Homo sapiens: one gene and its partner. The protein of the gene in region 2 interacts with the protein of the main gene of each other region in a pairwise test. Each region holds a gene or a part of one and is shown on either strand. Other genes may lie near its edges.

Region 1 (6,843 bases), on a different chromosome or scaffold from region 2:
TTCCCCTGCTTTTTATATTATTCAAGAGTCAAAGAACGTTCCTCTGTCATTATCATCAATTCTCTGTATTAAAATTATCTGTACACATTTCAGTTGCCTCATATGACAAAGTTCCTTAAGAGCAGAAACCCTCTTCACACTAGTTGGCATATGCCAGGCAGATAGTGAGTACTCCAGAAACATGTACTGCACTACACTATCATAAAATTGAAGATTTGAATGCCATTTTGGTTAGTATTTTAAATACAATTAACCTTTCTGACTTTCCTGGAGTGTATGGAATCTGGATGTATGTGTTTGTGTAAAACTTCTGAAAGAGAATTCTAGTTTATCTTTCAGTTAATAATCACTGGTAATTCTAGATTTTCCTAAGCATTTTGAGTGCCTTATTTCCATACGCCTTTCATCGTAACTATAAAAGGTAGAATCTGTATTATTATTCTCATTTTATAGAAGATGGTCTAAAAAGGTTAAGTGACTTGCCTAAGGGAACACAAAGCTCACTCAGCCTGGGACTCCTTTCACTACAAGAAAATGCCTCCTAAGGGCCGTAAATTATCTTCTGAATCATTTATTTAAAAAACTCTTGATCTTGAATTTGAAGAACTCCTTAATTTCAATAGCTATACTCTAATTCAGTTATACTCAAAGGTATGATCCATAGACTTGCAGTATCAGCACAAACTGTAAGTCTGTCAGAAATGCAATTATTGGGCCCCACTACAGACCTACTGAATGAGAATCTCTTCGACGAGGGACAAGAATCTGTGTTTTACCATGCTCAACAGGAGACTCTTAAGCACGGTAAAGTTTGAAAAACACGTCATTACCCTATGTTAGCAGCCTCAGACAGGTAAACTTTCTGCTTATACTCACATCCACGTTGCTATTTCTGGTTCAAATCACAGACAATTGGCTAGTCTTCATATAAAGGATTCTCCAATGTCCTTTAAAGAACACGAATTCCACAAAAGTGATTACTTATATACTATACACATTTCTTTTTTTTTTTTTTTTTTTAAAGACAGGGCCTCGCTCTGTCACCCAGGCTGGAGTGCAATGGCTCCATCCCAGCTCACTGCAGCCTGGACCTCCTGGACTCAAGCGATCTATTCTCTTGCCTCAGCCTCACAAGTAGCTGGTACTACAGGCATGTGCCATCATGTCCGGCTAATTTTTTTTTTTTTTTTGTAGCGAAAGGGTTTTGCCATGTTGACCAGACTGGTCTCCTGGGCTCAAGCAATCCCCCCTCCTCAGCTTGCCAAAGTGCTGGGATTACAGGTGTGAGTCACTGCAACTAGTTACTTACAATGTTTACCTGACGAAGTCCCTATCCAATTTAAACACTTCAAAGGCTATGGATAATTTTTTTTAAAATCCCCACTACAACCTCAGGAAAAAAACTGACAAAAGAAATACTCAGGAGTTTCACAATTAAGGAAGCCTCAAAACATGTGAAAAGATATGCAACCTCATAGGTGATCAGAAAATGCAAACTAAAACTGCAACCAAATACCATTTCATAACTACCAAAATGACAGAAATTCAAAATTCAGATAACATGTATTCATACTAATGTAAGGCAATGACAACTTTCGTCCACTCCTAGTGGGAACAAAACTGACACTAGCACTTTGGAAAAAAGTTAGCATTACTTACACACACCCTACACTTCAGTGATTCCAATCCTATGTTCACAACCTAGAGAAACCCTTGAACATGTTAACCAGAAGACATGTACAAAGATGTTTTAGCAGTATTGTTTATAATTGCAAGCAATTGGGAACAATCCAAATGTCCACCGATAGTAAAATGAAAAAATAAATTGGGGTATATTCATACAAGGAAACACCACATAACAGTGAAAAGACTAAAACTACACCCGCAAGTATCACCCTGTTTGAAAAACAAAAAGCTAAATCTAAGAAGACACAGAAAAATGCATACGGTCCACTTTCATGTATATAAAATTAAAAAACAGGCTAAATTAAGCCACTTCATGACTACAAGAAGAGGAACAGAATGCAACACAATTCAGGGTGGTTACGTCTGATACAGGAAAAGAGAATATGATCTGAGAGGTGCACGTAAGGGTTTGAGGGGTATGGTAATGCTCTATTTTACTTAGTCTGAATGCTAGTTTCCCGCATGGTTTTATTAAACTCTATATAAGTTGTATCCCCTGCTATGTACGTTACATAATCATTTAATGAGCAACAACAAAGAAACTTTGAATACTTTCCCAATGCATCTAAATTGAGAGTTCAATGTTTTTAACACTTCCTATAAGCCTGGTTGAACAGATCCCCAGGCTATTTATGACTTCTCTATCATTCACACTGAAGAAAACGGGTAAAACCAGACTACAACGCAGGAGTTAACAATTAAAAGGTAACACAACCTAAACAGTAAGGGCTGTGTCGTCTAATATTTTAGCATCTGACAAACAGGAATTGATAATCTTTCAAAATGTCTTTACTGACAAACTAGAGCTAAGGACATGTCGGATAGCTCCTTTCCCCATACCTCACCCCATTATCAGGGTCCACTCTTGTATATCATGACTACCTATTCCCACCTCACCCTATTCCTCATTCCGTCAGTGACTTTCAGCCACCCGCAGGCTTACAAGGTTCTGCGTCGCCCTAGGCATTTTCTTAATACTCATCCTTTTACAAAAGACGTAATCCGCAACAGCTTCGCTTTGGGGACCCTTTAGCAAAAGCAATGAATTAGGAACACCTGGGTGGCACCATATCGGCCAGCCGTTCCTGTGGGCCCAGCCAAAATCTTATCAGCGATTATTCAGGTACTCAACTACACAGTACAGGCTCCAGGTGGTTTTATAAGTCCACGAGGAACGAAAGAAAAAAACATCGCAACTCAACGTACACAAACCCCAGGCTTCGGTTCCCACATAACATCACCTTGGTTCTCCGGCTTCGGCTTCTGGTTACGAAATTCACTTTTTCCAGCGCCTTTTTCTGGCCGCTCCAGCGAGGGAGACGCCATTTGCAAGCTGCTTCCGGTGGCTCCGGAAATGAAACTGTTCTTAAACCCTACCGGCTAAAACGCCTACACTCAAAATGAGTTCCGCGGAACTCAGACGAGGAGATCTGCGCAGTCTCCGTGCGTACGTGCGTTAAGCCCGCGCTTTTACACAAACCACAGCTTCTCCTACGTGGCCAATGAAGAGCCGGAGACTTTCTCCCAGTATGCCCTGAAACCATGGAGTTTGCGTACTGGGACTTGTAGTTTAGCAGGCGGTATAGGCAAATTGGATACTGTTTTATCCGTAGTTTCCTCGTGGCCTCACGGCCTAACCTGGACCATCGGACAGCGGAGTGCTACCAACCTGTCATTGATGTCATTCATTCTTTCGATAAATATTTATATGTTGGCCAAATATGCGCTAGATGTTGGGAGGAAGTACAAATATGAGAATACAATGTATATTGGGCCTCCACTGCAACAAGTGACAGGAATAGCTACTATTTATTGTGAGACTACTTTGTTTCAGTACTTTATTTACATTATTTCTAATTTTAAAAACAGTGACAAAATTAAACTTTTCAAAGTTGTTTCTGATGGTAATCTTCCCGAGTGTTGGTATTTCTCTAAGTCAGAGGGATGGTAATTCAACATCCTGACGTTTCTGAAGTATTTCAACTAGCCTAAGATTTCTCAAAATCTCTAAACTCCTTTTCTACCCCCAACATTACATAGGGCTAAGATGTGTAGAGAGGTTCATCACTAACTACAAATAACTACACTTTTGGAAGTATAAGAGTTCTTCGACATGCCAAATATAAGATTTTTTTAAATTTTGATTTTATTGCTTGCATTTCTAAAATTTTCTGCAGCAAATAGGGAAAGTCTTTGATAGGTTAAATTCCTTGCATTAGTGAAATACACGTTTGTCTGATAAATCCACTCTCGTGTATCTTATACAATAATTTAGGTTTTCATATATGAGATCCAGGTATGAAACAGATTGTTACATATGGACAGAAGAACCCACGACAGAGGGGTTTTTTGTTTTTATCCTGTGAGTTTTATAAATGACAGGGATTTTATCTCTGTTCTTTTAATTTCCTCAAAAAATGATAAATTCCTAAAATAGAACAGATAGCAGCAGGTGAAAGTTATAAAGTGAGGAGTACACCTCATGAAGCAGGTTTTTATCATTCTTATTTTAAGTAACTCAATCACTAATAAGTGGAAGGCCCGTCTTCAAGTTCAGGCAGTTTGACCTAGCAGCTTCAGGGGGCTACTATTCATTAGGAGCTTCAAATGTGTTAGAGGGCTGATAGGGATTAAGGGGAGGGAATAGTCTAGAAATAATATTTGTGTTAAAGCCCTTTATTTTATAGCAAAATTTTCTACATAGGCTTTTCTTCCCATTTACGTGTATATTTTTAATCTTAGTATTGCTATTATTTGAGGAATATTGAGAATATGATGGAGATGGGAAAACGAAAACCCACCCATCCTTTTCTTGGCACTATTGAGTCTGTTTGTAAAACCCAACCTTTTAATTACCATACTATGCAGAGCCCACAGTTCACCTGTCCCTTTTTGAAATTTTTACATCTTTTTCCAAATCATTACTGAAAGGGGTGTAAAAACATGGATAATAATTGAGTTCTAAGATTCTCTAACGTCCTCAAGACCTCCTATTATAGATGACACCACACTAAAACTGTCTGCTTTCCAAAGGAAAAGATTCATCAGGCTCCTACAATAAGTTATTTCAGTATTAAGTGATTCTTTCCCTTCCCTAACTCAAAAGCCCTCATGTTGTCCACCAACTGAATATACAATATAAAAACAATATATGATTGGAAGTTAAGTGAATTTTTTTAAGTCTGTTACTTGCCTTCCAGAACCCATAATCTAACACAAGTTATATCACAGGAATAGGGAGTTATCTTACATATAGGATATAAAAGCTTTTACTAAAAAATGAATCCTGCAACAAAAATCACAAATTAATTTAAAAATATTAATTATAATGACTATTAATCATATACTGAAGGGTATATATAATTATACAGTACTTTTTCCTCTGTGATAATATGAGATAAAATATAGCAAGATACTAATTTGATGCTAGTAGTTATAAGAAGTAATGTATAAAAATTAAATGAATAGAAAATTGCATGAGACTGAGAGGCTGAAGCTTTTCCTTAGTACACATACATTTTTTTTTCAGTTTTAAAACAGACTCTGATGCTTAAATATTGTTACTCATTAACTGAATTTTCATATTTTGGCTTGACAAGCAGGAATAGCACATATATATATACTTACTAAAAATTAAAATTGACAGTCAAATTGAATGAGAACAACGTTTCAACAATTTGCTTAGACTATGTTTTAAGCAATTTTGAAGAAAAATTTTAAAATAAACGTGGTATGGAATAAACAAATTCCGAAATTAATTCGACTAGTTCTTCTAAGAATTAAACATTGTAACCAATATTACATATGAGTAGTTTAAACTTTTAAAACCTCTTAACAATAGTTTCCACATGTGGGAACTATTTGCTCTAGATTCCTTACTTTGGAAAAGAGCAGATCTAATTTCAACATCTTCCAAAAATTCATTAGAATTGAAAGAACAATTTGATTTTAAATAAATATTGAATAATGACTAAAAATTATAAATATTTATTGAATACATATTGAAAATAAATATTGAAAAATCTCCTAAAATCACCTTAGAAGACTATAAACTCAAAAGTGATTATCAAAATGACAGTGTCCAAATTTTCATCTCAATTTCAATGATTCACTGATTATAAAGTATTCAAAATAATAATTTAAAATTTAAAATGATGAGAAATAGGGTAAAAAAATAAAGGATATAAAAGAGGGCAAAATATTCGCAAAACATTTAATGGGTTGATTACAATAATATTCAAGGCGATAAAAAGATGTAAGCAATTCAATCAAAAAATGAGGAAAGCCCGAGGGCAGTGGCTTACGCCTGTAATCCCAGCACTTTGGGAGGCCGAGGCGGGCGGATCACGAGTTCAGGAGATTGAGGCCATTCTGGCTAACACGGTGAAACCCCGTCTCTATTAAAAATTCAAAAAATTAGCGGGGCATGGTGGCACGCACCTGTAGTCCCAGCTACTAGGGAGGCTGAGGCAGGAGAATCGCTTGAATCCAAGAAGCAGATGTTGCAGTGAGCCGAGATCATGCCACTGCACTCCAGCCTGGGTGACAGAGCAAGACTCCATCTCAAAAAAAGAAAAGAAAAACGGAAAATATATTAGTAGATATTTGTGATGGTTAATTTTAAGTGTTAACTTGACTGGGTAATATTGTCCCGATATTTGGGCCTACATTATTATGGATGTTTCTGTGAGAGTACTTTTAGATGAGATTAACATTTAAATCAGTGAACTTTGAGTAAGGTAGATTGTCCTCTATATACTGTGGGTGGTCCTCATCCAATCAGTTGAAGACCTGAATAGAACAAAAACATTGACCTCCCCTGAGAAAGAAGAATTGTGCAGCAGAAGTCCCTTGTACTTGAATTGCAGCATTGTCTTGTCTTTGTCTCCAGCCTGCCAGCCTACCGTGCAGATTTTGGACTCGCCAGCCTCCATAATCATGTGAACCAATTTTTTAAAATAAATAAAAATAAATTACACACACACACACACACACACACACACACACACACACATTGGTTTTGTTTCTCTGGAGAGCCCTAATACAACAATTTATAGTAGAGCTAATCCAAATGACTGACGAACATATGATGTTCAACCTCACTACTGTCAACAAAGTATACAGACTTAACAATGAAATATCACTTCTCACCCACCA
Region 2 (7,024 bases):
CAGTGGCCGGGAACCCTGACCCCCAGCCTGGTTCACCCTCCTCCCCAGATCTCCCACCAGTGGCCCACACCATCCCAGGAGCACAGCCTGTGCCTGCCCGCCACACCTCCACCCGCCACACCTCCGCTCGTGCTGTTGTGCTGTCTGGGAAGCGTCTTTCTGCTCCACTGATCCCGCAGTGGGTCTGCCCCACTGATCCCGCCCGGCTGATCTGGACGTCAGTGTCTTCCTCTGGGATTCAGCTCCTCTCTCCTCTGCTGCCTGCTTCCCACTGCACTGGAACACTGGCCCCCACTTTTGGTTGAAATCTTATGGGGGCTCCCAGCCTGGCCCCAGCTCCTGCCATCTGGCTCTGCCCTTTCCCACCCAAACTTCTGAAGAATCATCCACACTGAGTCCCGCCCCCTCCACCCCCGAGACCTCTTCTGCTCCCTGGCCCCCAGAAACCACCCCCTCAAGGTTACCACGATCCCTCTCGCTGAACCCCACAGATGCTTCCCTGGTCTCACCAGCCTGGCCCCTCTCTGGAGACTCCTTTCCCGGGGCCTCTGCTTTCCTCCTCCCTCTCTGGCTTCTCTGCTGGTTCTTCTCCCCCAGCCCATCTCTGCATTCCCAGTGTGGGGGAGGCCTCTGCCTGGGGCCCTCTGGTCACTGCAGCCACAGCTCCTAGTACGGCACCTGTCTTCCATCCTCCCTAAACACCATTCCAGTCTCAAACCATCACCCTGCTCCAGTTGGCCCAGCCTCTGCTTCTCTGCTCATTTTACAAATGAGGAAACTGAGGTTTCCTGCAGTGGGTCGTAGGGGATGGGGATCCAGAGTGCTAGCTTTATTTTATTCATTTATTTATTGAGATGGAGTCTCACTCTGTCACCCAGACTGGAGTGCAGTGGTGCGATCTCCGTTTACTGCAACCTCTGCCTCCCAGGTTCAAGCAATTCTCCTACCTCAGCCTTCCGAGTGGCTAGGACTACAGGCGCAAGCCACCATGCCCGGTTAATTTTTTTTTTTTTTTTTTTTGTATTTTTGATAGAGACGTTTTACCATATTGGTCAGGCTGGTCTCGAACTCCTGACCTCAGGTGATCCACCCGCTTTGGCTTCCCAAAGTGCTACGATTACAGGTGTGAGCTCCCGCGCCCAGCCTAGAGTGCTAGCTTTAAAAGCCCCACCTGCTCTACTCTGGTTCAGCTGCCTGGTGGAAGGAAAGGAATTTCCCATCATGCTTCTCTTCCCAAAAAGATTCTGGCTCCAGTTCCTTCCAGTGAGGACCCACGGGGTGGCAGAGTTGGGTCTGGCCTCTAGATCCCAGTTACCTGGGGGGCTGCCAGGGGGGATGTGGGCAGGGCCCTCGGACGGGACGCCGTGGAGCCTCATCTCATTGCTGTGTCCCAGCTGCACCCGTCTCAGTATGGACTGCTCCATGTGGATGTCCTGGGGCCCCCAGGGATCAACTAGGGTCCCCCAAGTTGAGGAATCACCTGGTGCCATTGAAGGGAGGTGGCGTGGACCGGCGGAACCTGGCAGGGGACAGTGGCACAGCCTCACCGGAGATTACTGCAGGCTTCTTCCTTTCCCTCACCACCACACGCAGGCCTGTCCTCTGAATTCTTCCTGGACACCATCGAACTGGCGGCCAAAGACTTCAGGCTCTGGCTTAGAGAGCAAGAGGACCTGGCGGAATAGCTCATTTTGGGGCTCCCTGAGTTCTCAGGAGCGGGGCTGGTCCTGGGTGTTGCAGGGACACTCACAAACCCAAACAATGAGCTCCTTGTTCTGATTCCCAGTCACTCCCGAGCCTTCTGACCTCATGGGGACCAAGTCTCGTTTGGTGCCAACACCAAAGGCTCAGAGCCTCCCGCAGTGTTTTAACTGCCAGGGACAACATTTATTTTTATGGTGTTTTTCATGATTTACACTTAAAATAATACTATAAAATTGTTTTAAAATAAATTTTTAAAAAGGTGCACTACTCAACAACATTAATTAAATAATCAGACATGGGTATGGCCAGAATCAGGAAGGTGGGGCTCAGAAGATTAAAGCTAGGGAAACCATGATCTAGATTCTAGAACAAGGTTCCTCATTTCACAACTGAGGCTGACAGTGGGGAAAGGTTCTCCCAAGGTTACAGGGAGTGTCCCGACTTTGGGGCTGATGCTGTCACTCACAGGTGACAAGGCTGGGCTGACAGGTGGCTCTGTCCCCTCTTGCCACAGTGCCCGGCACAGGGTAAGTGCTCAAAGTGCAACACCGCATTTCATCCAAACTAGGATGCCACAGGTGGTGAGATGCACCCCAGTTTCCAGCCTGTTAAAATGTGGGGGAAAGTAGCGTGTCTCAGAACAAATACGGTACTACAATAACCTCCCCTGTAGCATTCCGCGGAGGGAAAGGCAATTGAGTTGTTTCTCATGAAAAACACCGGACCCCATTGAAAATGAGGCATAAGGTCAGGCGCAACACAGAGATACCCCATCTTAATTTTAAAATTTTATTAGAAAAATAAAAATTAAATTAAACTTTAAAATGAGGTAGAAAGTATCAGAGTACAGGGAAATCAGGAGAGCTTTGATCCAGGTGTCCTCATTCTCAGGACGGCCGTAAAGGTGGACTGTGGGGGTCTGGAAGCAACCCTTTCCCCTTGGAGGGCAGAATCCCCCCACTCCCCATCCCTACCCTTTGCCCCCACCCAGAGGATCCGGTGGCTCCCCACCGAGGTCCCCTCCCTGGGCTCTCTTGGGTGACTTACCGTCCTCCCTGGAGACTGTCTGTCTTGTAATGATGTTCCCGTGTCCAATCTGGATGGCTTCGGAGTTTGCAATGGAAATCCAGCTGTTGGGTCCATTCTGGCAGATCATGTTGATTGGATTGTGCTGGTAAATAATTGAGGCTGACTTTGCTCTTCTTCCAGAATCTTCTGCAAAATAATATTCAACTGTATCCCTTTGCCACTGTCTATGGGTCAGGGGTTCCCAATACCAGTCGGCAGCACCAAATTCTCCTGGGGAGCTTGTTAAAATACCCTGGGCGTTCCGAGTCAGTAGGGCCAAGTGGGAGGCCAGAGCTGGGTGTTTAACAGACACCACAGGTACCTCAGAGGGAGCCTCACTTGAAAATAGCCACTGTGAGTCACCCTACCTGTGTCTTTTGCTGCCTCCATGGCTGGGCCGCCATGATTGCTGGCTGGGAGGACCGCAGGGGCCCCACACTGCTCTCCCTAGGGGGCAGCCACAGCCCGGACCCCCGAGCACCTGCACCATTGCCCTTTTCCCTTGAGTAATGGCCGAGAAACAGCAGCCCATTGGGCCAGATCGGTCGTGTTTGGCTCCCATGACATTTTCAATATTTGAATTTGTCACTAGTGTTTAAAATCTGGTGGCTGTCACGCGTTATTCCTTCCTCACAGCAGCCCTAGGATGCTGAGACCCCCTCGGGCACCCGTCATGAGTAGCAGAGTCAGCCCTGCAGAGGTTGAGGCAGGCACCTGCCCAGACTGTGCGGGGCCCATCACCACCCTCCAGGGTCTCAGCTCCTGTGCCTTTGTGGGCCCTTCCCCCATACACAAATATTTAAATTACATTGTATAGCAAGGATAACCCAGGCTGGATTTTTAAATTTTATTTTATTTTATTTTTTGGGGGACAGAGTTTTGCTTTTGTTGCCCAGGCTGGAGTGCAATGGCGCGATCTCAGCTCAGTGCAACCTCTGCCTCCTAGGTTCAAGCTATTCTCTTACCTCAGCCTCCCGAGTAGCTGGGATTACAGGCGCCCACCACCACACCTGGCTAATTTTTGTATTTTTAGTAGAGACGGGGTTTCGCCATGTTGGCCAGACTGGTCACTCCTGACCTCAGGTGATCTGCCCGCCTCAGCCTCCCAAAGTGCTAGGATTACAGGCGTGAGCAACCGTGCCTGGCCCATTTTTAGATATTCATTATTATTGTAGTATTCATTTCCTCTGATTTTAAATGAAATTAAAATTAAAACATTTTCAAGGACCCCTGAGAATGCCATGCACCTATTGGATCTTGGCCCTGTGTGTGTTAGGTCTCACGGGGAAGCTGACCCTGCGCTGACCCTGGGGCTCCAGCCGGTAGGGGTCCAAGACTAGTCTTGCCTTCTCTTCTGCCAACTTTTAAACCCCAACTTGAGCAAAGTGCTCAAAGAAAACCATTCCCAAACTCAGACTGATCCCTGCACCCCAGAGCTGAGAACATTGGGAATGGGCCACCTCCGTCCCATTCACTGGCCTTCTGCAACTGCAGACCTTGGGCCACGCCTCCAAAAAGCTGTCCCTGGTTAATCTTGCCAGCACACCCCTTCCTCCTGGAAGCCCTTGCAGTGAATTGTCGGTAGGACCTCCAGAAGCTTCTAGCAGTTTCCGGTGAGCTGCTCAGCAGAGCACCCAGCAAAGACCAAGCACTAGTGTCATGGTTTCCCTCTGCAGCCCAGACACAGGCAGCCGGGGGCCTACCTGGGCGGTAAATCGTCCATGCTTTGGACTGCTCATCCATGTCCAGAAGGTGCCTGCTCTTCATCCTGTACAAGTCTCGGTTCACATCTTTTGCTGTCCTCATTCCCAGTGCTTGGGCGATGACCAGGGCCCTCTGGGGACCATTGTCTTTGAGAAACCTGTAGATGTCTTCCTCTGGGAGGCAGGATGGCCAGGTGGTTAGGGAGTAGTCCTAGGGTTTGCATCTGCCCCACCGCTTCCTAGCTGTGTGGCCCTGGACCCAGCCCCTCAAGGCCTGGTTTCCTCATCTGTAAAATGGGTGTCATGATAACGGGGTCATCATGACGCACCGCAGAGGTGCCCTGAGGGTGGGGGATGTGCACAGAGTGCTCTGCGCTGGGCCTGGCATGTGGCGGGTGCATGGTGAGGGTCAGCTATTGTCTGACTGGAGAAATCACTGCTCAGCCATTCAGATTCTCCCACTGTGAGGGCTGGGTCTTGGCTCTGAACACTGTATGGGAGCTGCCTGGTGGGTGGGACAGGGCCCCTGAACACTGGTGAGATCTTGTACCCTCAAGGAGGGCCTGGGGTTCCTGGGGAGTGGGATCCTGTGTCCCGGGAACTGAAGGGACATGCAAAAACTTACCCCGTTGTTGGCTGAACTGAGGGCCAGGGGTCTCTGGAATTGTAGCTGCATGTTGCTGGGGCCTCTCGGCTGCAGAAAGAAAGATGGGTCAGAGGGGTGGGGGACAGAAGACAGCACCAGGCCTCCACCCCACAAAGGTGGGCAGCTCCCTAGGGGTAAGTGGCAATGCCGGTAGTTGCAAACTCAGACTCCAGAGTTCAACACACTTGACTTCAAATCCTGCCTGCGCCCTGGCAGCTGCGGCTTCCTGCCGATTAACTTCTCCGGGGCTCAGCCTCCTTTGCCTCCTGGGGTTGTGTGAGGGCTGGGTGAACCCCAAAACAGTGCCTGGCTAATCTTAAGTGCATGATAAATGGCAGCTCCTTCTGGCTGTGGGCTGTAAAGCTAGAAAAGGGGGGCTGGTGGGACTGCATATGTTCTGTGATTGGGACCATGGCGTCATTGCTGTCTCCATCATGATGATTTTCTATTATAATTGTTAGTGTTCTGCAGAGTACCTCCTGTGTGCAGGGCTGGGCTGAGCCTGACGCAGGGCCTCCTCTCAGCAACCCCTACCAAGCAGCCCTGCTGTGAGCTCCATCAACCAGAAAAAGAAACCAAGGCACAGAGAGAGGAAACCTGTGAGCTCCCATGTGGCAGAGTTCAGATTCGAACCCAGGCTCAAATCTGTGCTTGTCCATTGCCAGGATGCTCCCTGCAGGGTCAGACCCGCCTCCCCGGGGTGGCAGTTACCAGGGCTGGACAAGGCCAGCTCTGCAGGACCCTCGCCTTCAGGATCAGTCCCGCCCAAGCACCAGGTGGCAGGGGATGTGAGGGAGACTTTCAACTCCTTTTTCATTCGGTAGAGGACTTGGTTGAGCTCCCTCTTGGGTGCTTGGCATTCCTTCACCAGCTGGGCAAGTTTCACCGGGGAGCCAGCCTCTGTCAGCACCTGCAGGATTCTTTGTTCAAGGTGGCCTGGGGGAGCGAGCGGGGGACAGAGAGGGGAACTGAGTCTCCCAGGTCCCCACAGTTGAGCCCAGGCTGGAGGCTCCAGGAGGCACGTAGGCCCCTTTTTGAGAGGGGTCCAGGGCAGAGGAAAGGGCAAGGACCCCAGCAGATGCCCCCTAAGAGCAGTAGGGCAGCTGCATCTGCCCAGAGGGAGGCATGCAGGCTGATCAGAAACGGCCTTGGCTGCGCAGCCTGGTGGCCAGGGGAGGTGCCACCTCGCCTGTGCCCTCCCCGGGTGTGGGTTCCAGAGGGCAGTGGGGTTCCTCAGCTCTCAGGTGTCCTCAGGGCAGAGGGGAGTAGAGGGCAGAAGGACGGAGCCAGAGGGAGGCAGGGGGACCTGGGAGCGCAAAGGCAAGTCCTGCCTGGGACGCCTGCCTGGGTTTACCTGATGCCCATCGCCATCCTCCCCGGGAGTGCCCTCCTCTCAGCTCACCATCCATCCATGGCGCCACTATCCATCCAAGCCAGAGACCGACCAGACATCAGAAACAGACCTTTCCCCCAGTGCCCAGTCGTGGAGCCCTGGAAATGCCATTCCTGGATTCTCTGGAATCCCCCCACTCCTCTCTTTTCTGCCAGCACCACCCCCTTCCTCTTCACCATCTCCTAGGTACAGTGATAGGCTCCCCGTTGGCCCGCCAGCTCCAGTCAGGTACCCTCCAGATCTGGCTCTGCCAACCACCCAGCTTGGCCTGCACCTGCCCCCAACTTCCCTCCAAGTGCTGGCCTGTCTGTGCTCCCTTCAGCCCCACTCTCCCCAGCCCCTTTGTGCACACTGTTCCTGCTGCCAGGAGCACCCTTCCCTCACGCCCCAACCTGTATGATGTCTACTCAACCTCCAGGCCTCCTCAGATGCCACTTCCTAGGGAAAGCCTGTCTCTGTGTCCCAGAGTGGCTGGGACGCTGCTTGTGTGTGGGTCCCCTGCAGAACTTC

The links. The genes of interacting proteins can lie anywhere in the genome.
Region 1: the proteins of ZBP1 (region 2) and KRR1 interact in binary tests that used the Homo sapiens proteins (3 or more experiments, as listed by UniProt).

The regions. Positions count from the first base shown.
Region 1 is NC_000012.12:75,508,586-75,515,428, forward strand, and holds the start of KRR1 (KRR1 small subunit processome component homolog), read right to left. Parts: upstream 3,025-6,843; 5' UTR 3,013-3,024; coding exon 2,928-3,012; exon of another isoform or gene 2,893-2,927; intron 1-2,892. UniProt on the Homo sapiens protein: Part of the small subunit (SSU) processome, first precursor of the small eukaryotic ribosomal subunit.
Region 2 is NC_000020.11:57,610,412-57,617,435, forward strand, and holds part of ZBP1 (Z-DNA-binding protein 1), read right to left. Parts: intron 6,058-7,024; coding exon 5,833-6,057; intron 5,170-5,832; coding exon 5,101-5,169; intron 4,650-5,100; coding exon 4,476-4,649; intron 2,920-4,475; coding exon 2,752-2,919; coding exon of another isoform or gene 2,675-2,751; exon of another isoform or gene 2,480-2,674; intron 1,674-2,479; coding exon of another isoform or gene 1,657-1,673; exon of another isoform or gene 1,520-1,656; coding exon 1,316-1,519; intron 285-1,315; coding exon of another isoform or gene 122-284; intron 1-121.